Linked DNA regions of Homo sapiens. The protein of the gene in region 2 purifies or fractionates together with the protein of the main gene of each other region. This does not show direct contact. Each region holds a gene or a part of one and is shown on either strand. Other genes may lie near its edges.

The links. The genes of interacting proteins can lie anywhere in the genome.
Region 1: the proteins of APOBEC3C (region 2) and XPC purify together in Homo sapiens (co-immunoprecipitation; 3 studies listed by BioGRID and IntAct, with this or other methods). This does not show direct contact.

The regions. Positions count from the first base shown.
Region 1 is NC_000003.12:14,161,565-14,168,601, reverse strand, and holds part of XPC (DNA repair protein complementing XP-C cells), read left to right. Parts: intron 1-221; coding exon 222-345; intron 346-1,348; coding exon 1,349-1,433; intron 1,434-3,016; coding exon 3,017-3,174; intron 3,175-3,668; coding exon 3,669-3,789; intron 3,790-7,037. UniProt on the Homo sapiens protein: Involved in global genome nucleotide excision repair (GG-NER) by acting as damage sensing and DNA-binding factor component of the XPC complex. Has only a low DNA repair activity by itself which is stimulated by RAD23B and RAD23A.
Region 2 is NC_000022.11:39,017,224-39,020,856, reverse strand, and holds the end of APOBEC3C (DNA dC->dU-editing enzyme APOBEC-3C), read right to left. Parts: intron 3,092-3,633; coding exon 2,812-3,091; intron 2,589-2,811; coding exon 2,470-2,588; 3' UTR 505-2,469; downstream 1-504.

The DNA.
Region 1 (7,037 bases), on a different chromosome or scaffold from region 2:
GGTTGTGTGGGTTAAATGAGACACACGAATATATAACACTCAGCACACTGCCCGGCACATGGTAGGACTCAGGGCAAGGCATGTCTAGGGGTCTCTGTGGGCTGTCTCCCTCACATTCATGCCTCACTTCCTCCTTCCCAGCAGAACCTTGATTCTGTTCAGTACAGTAGCTATTATTATTGTTATTACTATTACTGATTTTTAAAAATGCTTGTTGATAGAACTTAGTGAGCCTGTGCTGGGTGACGTGAGAGAAAGTACAGCCTTCTCTCGATCTCTTCTGCCTGTGAAGCCAGTGGAGATAGAGATTGAAACGCCAGAGCAGGCGAAGACAAGAGAAAGAAGGTAAGCTTAGGCCCTTGCTTCTAGGCTCCTGTCACATGCAGTAGGCAACAGCTGCTGCTTAGGAGGACTTTGGAGAAACTTGTAGGGGACCAGGACTGAGTATCAAAGTGGTCGAGAACCTTGGGTCAGGAACCTGATTTACCTTTAGAGACTTGAATGAGACACCTTCGTGTCCTGGCTGGGGCTGGTGAGGGATGAGGAGAGGGAACTCCTGTGTGCCAAGGATTGAGCAGGTCATCCGTTATCTTACCTAATCCTTAGAACAGTGTTGTGAATGAGGAGCTAAGTAACGTTCAGACGCTAAGTAACGTTTCAAGAGTCACTCAGCCAGTAATGGAAGAGCTGAGACCTAATCCTTCTCATTGACTTGGCATTCACATTTTCCTCACCATGTCATGCTGCAGGACTTGAGGCAGTGCCCGCCGTGGTAGGGAGCCCCTATCCTTCCCAGCATCCCGGAGTACCTCTGCAGCCTCTGATGGCTTGGGAATTCCAATGTGCGATGGGCACATTACTAGGCACAGAAGAGGGAGATAATACAAATCATTCAAGAAGTGTCAAGTTGTCTTGAAGATTAATGGGATACAGACTGAAAAAGAGATTTTACACTAGAACAGTGTCACATAAATGATGGTGTGTTAATTTAACATTAATAAAGGTAATGGTTGCTAAGGAGAGAGTCAGTAGTCGGAAGAGTTGGACAGCCAGAGAAGACTTCCTGGAAGAAGTGAGCTTTGAGGCATGTAGGTGAGGTGTGATCTGCTGCTGGTTGAGAGGAGGGTTGTCTGGGTACAGAATGTCCCAGGCCGAGGTTTGCTGGTGAGAAGGAGCCAAAGAGCCTGCAGGAAATAGCTGGCTTGCAGACGGACTTGAGTAGCACAGCCTTGTGTAGGGAAACAGGGAGAGTGATTCACTGTCATCCGAGGAGAAGGAATTGCCTGGGGGAGTGGAGTCTGGTTTCAGTTCCCCCCTTCATTCCCAGATTTTTCACTATTTGTTGCAGTGAAAAGATAAAACTGGAGTTTGAGACATATCTTCGGAGGGCGATGAAACGTTTCAATAAAGGGGTCCATGAGGACACACACAAGGTAAGGGCAAGGAATGATGGGGAAGGACTTTTCCTTGTCGGTGCAAAGAGCTTGTGCTCACCGAGGCTTTATTTCTGGCTTTGCTGCTCTGTGGCCATGGCAAGTTTCTTACTCTCTCTGAGCCTTTGCATCCTCATCTGGGAGGTGGGGGTAGTAATAGTGTCTGTCTTGGAGGGTGGTTGTGTATTATAGGTAAGGTAACTTGCAGCACAATGCCTGGCATGCAGCAGAGGCTAAATAAAGAGCACTTGCCTTCCATCTCTCCTTTCAGCCATTTAATGTCATTAATTCTAATCCCAGCTGCAGGCACTGGCTTTTGACTTTAGCTGACAGTTATTGAACACTTGCACACACCTAGCAAGGTGCTTGGCATGGTGGGGATAGAGACTTGGATAAAGCTTATTTCCTACAATTGAGGAGTATCTGATCTCTAGATGGAACAAGGACTTCCAAACAGAGAAACTCAAGGCTATGCCTGGAACAGTGAAAGAGATCAGCGTGGCTCTGTGGAGCTGGGGAAGGCTTTATGTAGGGGAAAGGATTAGAGCCAGGTCTAGGAGAAAAAGTTGAAGACTCTAGCCAAGTTGTGGAGGGGACGGCGAGGTGCCCAGCTCACCTGCGTGTGTGGAGTATGTAGGTGTTGGGGGGTGGGGGTGAAGGGAGGGTGGGCTTTGGTTTCCCTTTGATGGATGGTGGGCTGCCTGAGAGGATAGTGATGGGATGGGTGAGTTGCTTTGTGTGCAGCTACTGCAGAAATCTAGAGGTGCAAGGATGGTGACGAGGTTAGAGAGGGGTCGCCTCCCTCACCCAGGCCTGGGGCACGAAACGAGACAGCTGTGTGCCTTTCACCTCTTGTTGGGTGCTGGAGGTGAAAGAAAGGGAAGATGACTCTCAGGTTTGAGGCCTGAGTGAGGAGAGAGAGGCAGCACTATTGATTAAAATAGGGAGGCTGTTAGTCGGGGGGGAGGAAGCCAATGTTGAAGGGAAAATGACACAAAGCAGTATGTGAAAAGAGGTGAAGAGGTCATATAATCATTTCAGTAGGTGGATGAAGGGTGGGTTTTGGGGTCAGAGGAAGGGCAAAGATGTGGAGCCTGTGACAGAGAAGGTTGGGCTCAAACACCCAGAGAGGTGGCGAGAGCAGCCCAGTGAGCCCAGTGGGGTGCATCCCGCCGGCTTCCACAGGCTTCCAGCAGTCTCTCCAGCTCCACTCCACTTGCCTTTTCTTCTGATCTCGTGGAGCAAACCCCAGACATGGCAGCATTTCATCCAGAAATCTTTCAGTATGTATCTCTGAAAGACAAGACCAAAACAAAAACAGTTTGTATTTTGAAAACAAAGCAATTTGTATTTTGAAGCTTTGAGGTTTGATGATTCCTTTGAAGGAATGAGTATACAGAGAGAAAAAGAGAGGGTCAAAGACAAGCTTGGGAAGTGGCCAATGCTAGTGTTTTTACTTTCTTATATGTAGAAATGGCAACACATATTTCTTGTCCACAGCATGTCTTGACTTTGGCAGCAAAAATTCCTCCTGGTGTCCGGCCTTCCTTCCATGCTGCCCCTTCCTCCTTTCCTCTTCACAGGTTCACCTTCTCTGCCTGCTAGCAAATGGCTTCTATCGAAATAACATCTGCAGCCAGCCAGATCTGCATGCTATTGGCCTGTCCATCATCCCAGCCCGCTTTACCAGAGTGCTGCCTCGAGATGTGGACACCTACTACCTCTCAAACCTGGTGAAGTGGTAAGGCCCTCCGCTTGTCCTGCAGAGCTGGGGAGTGTAGGATTTGTGTTTCTCTCAGAGGCTGGGTTCAGGTCACTTCCACAGACCTTCCCTGAGGCGGTAACTATGTATCAGGTGGTGGGCATGGCATTGAAGATAGAGAAATGCCAGGTATGATCTTGCCCTGGTAGAGCTGCCAGACTGGTGGGGAGACAAATACATACCAGGTAATTACAGGATGGCATGAGGAGTGCCCTGGAAGGGGTGTTCTGGGGACTGCAGGCTCACATAGCAGGGGCGCTTTTCTCAGCTGGGAGGTCTGGGAAGGCTCCCCAAGGAGGTAAAGTCTGAGCTGGGTCTGCAGTGATGATAGGAGTTAGCTAGACGGGCTGGGGAAAGTAGGACAGAGGCAGGCGGGTCTCACGATTCACTCCCTCTTTTTATTTTCTTGGCTGGAAATGAAAATTCCCCTTTGCCCTGACCTCTGACACAAGGAATGCCTGCTTTCTCCCCAGGTTCATTGGAACATTTACAGTTAATGCAGAACTTTCAGCCAGTGAACAAGATAACCTGCAGACTACATTGGAAAGGAGATTTGCTATTTACTCTGCTCGAGATGATGAGGAATTGGTCCATGTAAGTGATCCTCCCGGATCACTGTTTTTTATCAGTACTGTTAACTAATGATAATGGCAGCCATGTGCCAGATGCCATTCCAGGTGTGTTACCGACACTACCTTATTCAGTCCTCATAATGACGTTGATAGCTGCTGAAGCCCAGAATAGCTACATGATGCCTCTAAGGTCTTTTCCTTGGTGAGCCTGAGAATCGAGATTGGGATCAGAGTCTGAGTGGAGGGCCTGTATGCTTTCCTCCCTATCGCCTCTAGTTGTGGTGTACCAAAAAGCCCGTAGTTTTTGGTCAGATGTGCTAGAAATATTTTCATTAATTTTTCCAATTTTGTCTTCAGAAGTCCCAAGGAAATGTTTTTTCAAATTGGATGCTGAAGTCCTTGAGAATGTGTTTTTGTATCTCACATTTGGGTGTTGACACTGGCAGGCAGCAGTGCAGTGAGGAGGGTTCTGTCCATAAAAAGGAATCGTGATGGCAGAGTGCTCCAGGGACAGGCAGGCTTTATCAAATGCCTACAGGCACCTGTAGGTAAGGCTCTGTCTGAATAAAACAAAAACAGAGATGGAAATGTGGTTTTATCCCTAGAAGATTCCTATTAATCCATACAGTTCAATCTGGGAGTCCCAGATTCTCTGGAGAAAAAGATGGTTGACATCTTTAGTTCTCTTCTTCCGTGTTGGCTTTAACAAGTCTAAGATATTTGGCAAGGCTGATAATTATGTTATAATGTGCTGCCAATTTTTTTGTTTGTTTGTTTTTGTTTTTTGAGACAGAGTCTCTCTCTGCCGCCTAGGCTGGAGTGCAGTGGTGCAATCTCAGCTCACTGCAACCTCCACCTCCTGGGTTCAAGTGATTCTCATGCCTCAGCCTCGCGAGTAGCTGGGATTACAGGTGCCCACCACCATGCCTGGCTGATTTTTGTATTTTTAGTAGAGATGGGGTTTCACCCTTCACCCTGTTGGCCAGGCTGGTAACTCATTAATATTTTAGTATTGTCCTCCCAGACTTTGTTCCTGTGTATGTGTGTACGTATGTATTTGTTTTGTTTATTTGTTTAAGCAAAATAGGATCACACAGCTTTTAAAGAGGGGGTACAATTCAGTGACCATTTAGTACATTTACAATGTTGTGCAACTACCACCTCTATTTCCAAAATGTTTTTGTCACCCCCAAGGGAAACCCTGTATATACGCATTAAACTCCTCATTGTTACCCCCCTGTCCCTGCTCGTGGCAACCACCAATCTGTCTTGTGTCTCTGTGGATTTACCTATTTAGGATATTTAGTATAAAAGAAATTATACACTATGTGGCCTTTTCTGCCTGTCTTTTGCTTAGTATAATGTTTTCAAGATTCATCTGCATTTTAGCATGTATCAGTATTTCATTAATATTTATAGCTGAATAATATTCCATTACATGTTTATACATTTTCTCTATCCATTTATCCATTGGCAGACATTTAGTTAGTTTCCACCTTGTGGCTGTTGTGAAGAGTGTTGTTAATAATGTCTATACATATATTTATTTACATACCCTGTTTTCTGTTCTTTTGGGTATATACCTAGGATTGAAATTGCTAGGTCATATGTATATTCTATATGTAATTTTTGGAGAAACCACCAAACTGTTTTCTGCAGTTACTGTACCATTTTACATTGCCACCAGCAATGAACGAGGATTCCAAATCTTTACCAACACTTGGTTATTTTCTGATGTTTTGATTATAGTCATTATGATGGGTGTCAAGTGATACCTCATTGTGGTTTTGATAGCATTTCTCCAATGACATGATGATGAGTGTCTTTTCATGGGCTTCTTGGTCATTTGTGTATCTTTTTTGAGGACATGTCTGTTCAAGTATTTGCCTATTTTTTAATTATGTTGCCTTTTTGTTGATGATTTGTAAGAGCTCCTTGTATATTCTGGATATTAGTTACCTATCAGATACATGCTTTCCACATGGTTTCTCCCATTTTGTAGGTTGCCTTTTTACTTTCTTGATGAAGTCCTTTGATACCCAAAAGTTTTGAATTTTGACAAAGTCCAAGTTACCTATTTTTCTTTTGTTCTTTTTGCTTTTGGTGTCGTATCTAAGATTCCATTGTCAAATCCAAGGTCATAAAGATCGACCCCTGTGTTTTCTTGTAAGAGATTTATAGTTACTGCTCTTACATACGTTGTGAGTTAATATTTGCATATATCAGGTAGGTGTTCAATATCATTCTTATGCATGTGGATATCCATTTGTCCCAGCATTATTTGTTGAAGAGACAATTTTTTCAATGGGGCTTGGATGGTCATGGCATCCTTTTCAAAAATCAACTGGCCATAAATGTATGGGTTAATTTCCAGCCTCTCAATTCTATGCTGTTGGTCTACATGTCTGTTCTTACGCCAGTACAACACTGTTTTGATTACTATAGCTTTGTAGTAAGTTGCGAAATCAGGAAGCCTCAGTGTAACTCTGTTCATTTACAGTGTGCTTTGGTTATCTGGGGCCTCTTGCAATTCCATATGAATTTGATGATCTGTTTTTCCATTTCTGTGAAAAAGCTGTGGAATTTTGATAGGGACTGCACTGATCTGTAGATTAATTTGGGTGCCATTGCCATCTGGTTATTAGGTCTTCCAGTCCATAAGCATGGATGTCTCTCCTTTTATTTTTGTCTTTAATTTCTCAGCTGTATTTTGTAATTTTCAGTGTACAGCCTTTTACCTTGGTTAAATTTTTTCCTAGGTACTTTATTCTTCTTGATGCTCTTGGAAATAGCATTGTTTTCTTAATTTCTCTTTTAGGTTGTTCATTGCAAATGTATAGAAACACAACTGATTTTTTTGTGTTGTCTTGTACCCTGCAGCTTTGCTGAATTCATTTATTAGCTCTACTAGCTTTCTTGTGCATTCTTTGAAATTTTCTATGTATAGGATCATGCCATCTATGAGTAGATCATTTTACTTCTTCCTGTCCAGTTTGCATGCCTTTTTCTTGCCTAATTGCTCTGGCTAGGACTTCAAGTACAATGTTGAATAATGGTGGTGACAGCAGGCATCCTTGTTTTGTTCCTGATAATTAGAGGGAAAGCTCTCAATCTTTCACCATTAAGTATCATACTAGATCTGGGTTATCACGTTGACTCAGTTCCCTTCTATTCCTAGTGTTCTGAATTTTTTTTTTTTTTTTTTAATCATGAAAGCCTGTTGGATTGTCTCAGGTGCGTTTTTCTTTGTCAGTTGAAATGATCCTCTGG
Region 2 (3,633 bases):
CCAGCAGAGCACAAGCCCCTCCCCTGGTGGTCCCGCCCAGCTGGAGCCGCCACTCCACCATCAAGACAGACAGGCTGATGCCTCTGCAGGGACTCCCGGATCCTGCCCTCGGGGATCATCCCAGAGACGGCCCCCACCCAGCGGCCATGGGGACAGGGAGGGAGAGTAAAGGGCCAGGCGTCTGCCTCCCCCCAGGCCTTCACCCTCGGTGGCCACCGTGGGAGGGAGGGACAGCAGGTGGGTGTGGGCCTCAGATGTCCCACCGGGATGCCATGCGCGCCCCCACACTGAGCTCTTTCCTTCCTGCTTCTCCTTCTTCCCCATCTCCTGCCCGAAGATCCTCCGTGTTGGGCTGAACTTTTGCCCTCTCTTGTCCCCATGTTATGGAAGGGCAGCGGCTGGTGTCCCAGGCCAGCCTGTCTGGAGCCTCCCTGCGCGTCTCACAGCTCCCTTCCCATGGTAGCGTGTTCCCATGGCGCGGTGACCTACAAATTACACAAGGGATGCATTTGCAAAGGACACTTTATTTCTTGTTAAGGGTGACAGCCTGCAAGGTAGCCATCCAGCAGCCTGGGAAGAGCAGCCTCTGGTTAACACCAGAGACAGACATTTAGGAGCAGGAGGGGTTTGGGCAGGAGCTTTATGCTGAAGAGGTTGGCTAAACATACATATTCAACAGGCTACAGGAGGAGCTATGAATATTCATGTAGGTGGTTGCAGTCCATGCTTATTGAACAAACATGTGTGGAACATATGATCCCAGCCGGGCATAGTGGCTGATGCCTGTAATCCCAGCACTTGGAGAGGCTGAGACAGGCGGATCACCTGAGGTCAGGAGTTCGAGACCAGTCTGGCCAACATGGTGAGACCCCATCTCTACTAAAACTACAAAATTAACCAGGTGTGGTGATGCATGCCTTTTACTCGGGAGGCTGAAGCAGAAGAATCGCTTAAACTCGGGAGGCGGAGGTTGCAGTGAGTCCAGATTGTGCCATTGCATTCCAGCCTGGACAAGAGGAGCAACACTCTGTCTCAAAAAAAAAAAAAAAAAAAAAAAAGATGATATTTGGAGGCAGAGAGATCCCAGAGGTGCGTGTGCATAGAGGAAAGGCCACAGAGGACACGGCTGGAAGAGACTCCCTGCCAGCCAGAAGGAGCGGCCTCAGAGGAAACAACCCCACCCACCCCTCGAAGTTGGACCTGCAGCTTCCAGATCTGTGAGAAAATAAATGCCTGCCATGTGGGCACCTGGCCTGGGACATCTTCTATGGAGGCCACAGCATGAAAGGGTCATTTTTATGGAGAATCTCATTCTCTAAAACTTACATCTGCTTTGAAAATGTCAAATCAAATTTAAAGTGTTTAGAAGAGCCTCTAAATTTCATATTTCATTTGCAAAGAAAGAATTGTAATTTGAGACATACACGGAGTCCGGATGGTGTTCACCATGTTGAGAGAGCAAAGAGATGGCAATTATAGAAGGAGAAATGTTCTCTTGCCCTATGTAAAGCCCATGGGCACTAGGAAGGGCTGGGAGCTGGGAGGTTCTATTGCTGAGTCGCTGCGTTTGGAGCAAGGAGTCCAAGACTTACAGCCATTTATCGCAGAAGCTATGGATAAAGCTGGTTTCAGGGTACAATGCACAGTCTCAGGAGTCAGGCTTGCAGAGAAGTCCATTTCGGAAACAATGTTGTGTGGCCTGACTGCTTTTCCTCCCTGGCTCCTGGCCTCTGTTTTAGCTGGGTAGGACATGAATGACCCAATTCATAGGATGAAATTTACAAAGGATGTTTCTCAAAACTTCGGGTTTTCAACTTACATATATTCACACCTGTTTAGGTTGAGTTTATTTATCGATTTATTTTCAGGCAGGGTCTCTATCTGTTGCCCAGACCCGAGTTCAGTGGCGCGATCTCTGTTCACTCCAGCCTCCACCTCTCGGGCTCAAGTAATCCTCCCACTTCAGCCTCCCAAGTAGCTTGGACTACAGATGCATGCCACCACATCTGGCTTTTTTTTTTTTTTTTTTTTTTTTTTTGTAGAGATGGGGCTTTGTCATGTGACCCAGCCTGGTCTGGAACTCCTGGGCTCACGCGATTCTCCCACCTTTGCCTCCCAAATTGCTGGGGGATTACAGGCGTGAGTCACCATGCCCAGCCTAGGATGAGTTTAGTAAGATTTGGTTATGCTGGGGAGATGGGAAAAGCCAGGTTAGGGGCACGCAGGCTGGAGGAACGGGGTCTGTGGGGGTGGATGGATAGCCATGGAGGCAGAAAGGAGCCTCTGCAGGAAGAGTCTGGAAGAGCGAGGAGGAAGCGGTGAGGCAGGGGAGCACTGTGGAATGGCCCTGAGGCCAGGAGGGGCTCAGGATGACCAGGCAGAAACAGAGCGGGTCCAGGGTGGAGGGGAGGCCCGTGCAGCATGAGCAGGAGGCTAGAGGAGACAGACCATGAGGCCCAGGGAGACCCCTCACTGGAGACTCTCCCGTAGCCTTCTTTTCAGAAGTCGAAAGTTGGTTTTTAATCCCTTCCAAGGCTTGAATGGCTCATTATCATTGTACACAAAGTTTTCCCAACAATATTTAAAATCTGAGAAAAAACAAGGAGAAAACAGTGAGGGCCCAGCAGGCCTCTCTCCTGGCCCTGGGCCCTCCCCTCCCAGCCCAGGTATCCAGGCTGCCAGTTGCAGTGGGCGCTGGCCCGGTCCCCACAGACACCCAGGGGACACTGACCCGCCCCACAGCATTGGAGAACCATCTGCCCCTCATGCTGTCCCTCCTGCACCCACTCTCCTCAGCCCCCCACGTCTCACCTTCATAGTCCATGATCTCCACAGCGACCCCTTCCTGACTCAGGCTGCGGAGCCCCTCCTGGTAACATGGATACTGGAAGTAGTAGAGGCGGGCGGTGAAGATGGTGAGATTCACGTTGCTGTGCCTGGCCAGGAACTCGGCCACCTCCCCTGCACAGTCTGGGCAAGGGCTCCAAGATGTGTACCAGGTGACCTGGTACTTTGTGTTAGGAGACAGTATGTCGTCGCAGAACCAAGAGAGGAAGCACCTTTCTGCATGACAATGGGTCTCAGAATCCACCTGGCGAAGGAGGAGGAGGAGGACAGGGGAGCTCAGACCAGGAGCAGGAGGAGTGCAGGGGTGGGGCGATGGGAGCAGAGGGCGGGCCTGGAGCCCCGGGCCGTTTCCTTATTTACTCATTTTTGAGACAGGGTCTCTCTCTGGTGCACAGGTTAGGGGGTGCAGTGGTGGGATCTGGGCTGACTGCAGCCTTGACCTCCCAGGCTCAAGGAATCTTCCCACCTCAGCCTCCTGATAAGCTGGGATGCAGGTGCATGCCGCCACACCTGCCTAATTTTTTAAATAATTTTTTTAGAGACGGGGTTTCACCATGTTGCCCAGGCTGATCTTGAACTCTTGGGCTCAAGCGATCCTCCTGCCTCACCCTCCCAAAGCTCTGGGACTATGAGCATAAACCACATGCACAGCCTTATTTTATTTCTTTACTTTTCATTTTTCTGGCTACATAGTAGGCCCCAGGGTGTTTTATTCATTGAGTTTCCCTTCTTCTATCCTTCTCCTTCTCTCTTTATTCTTTTATTTTTATTTTTTTCAAAGATGGA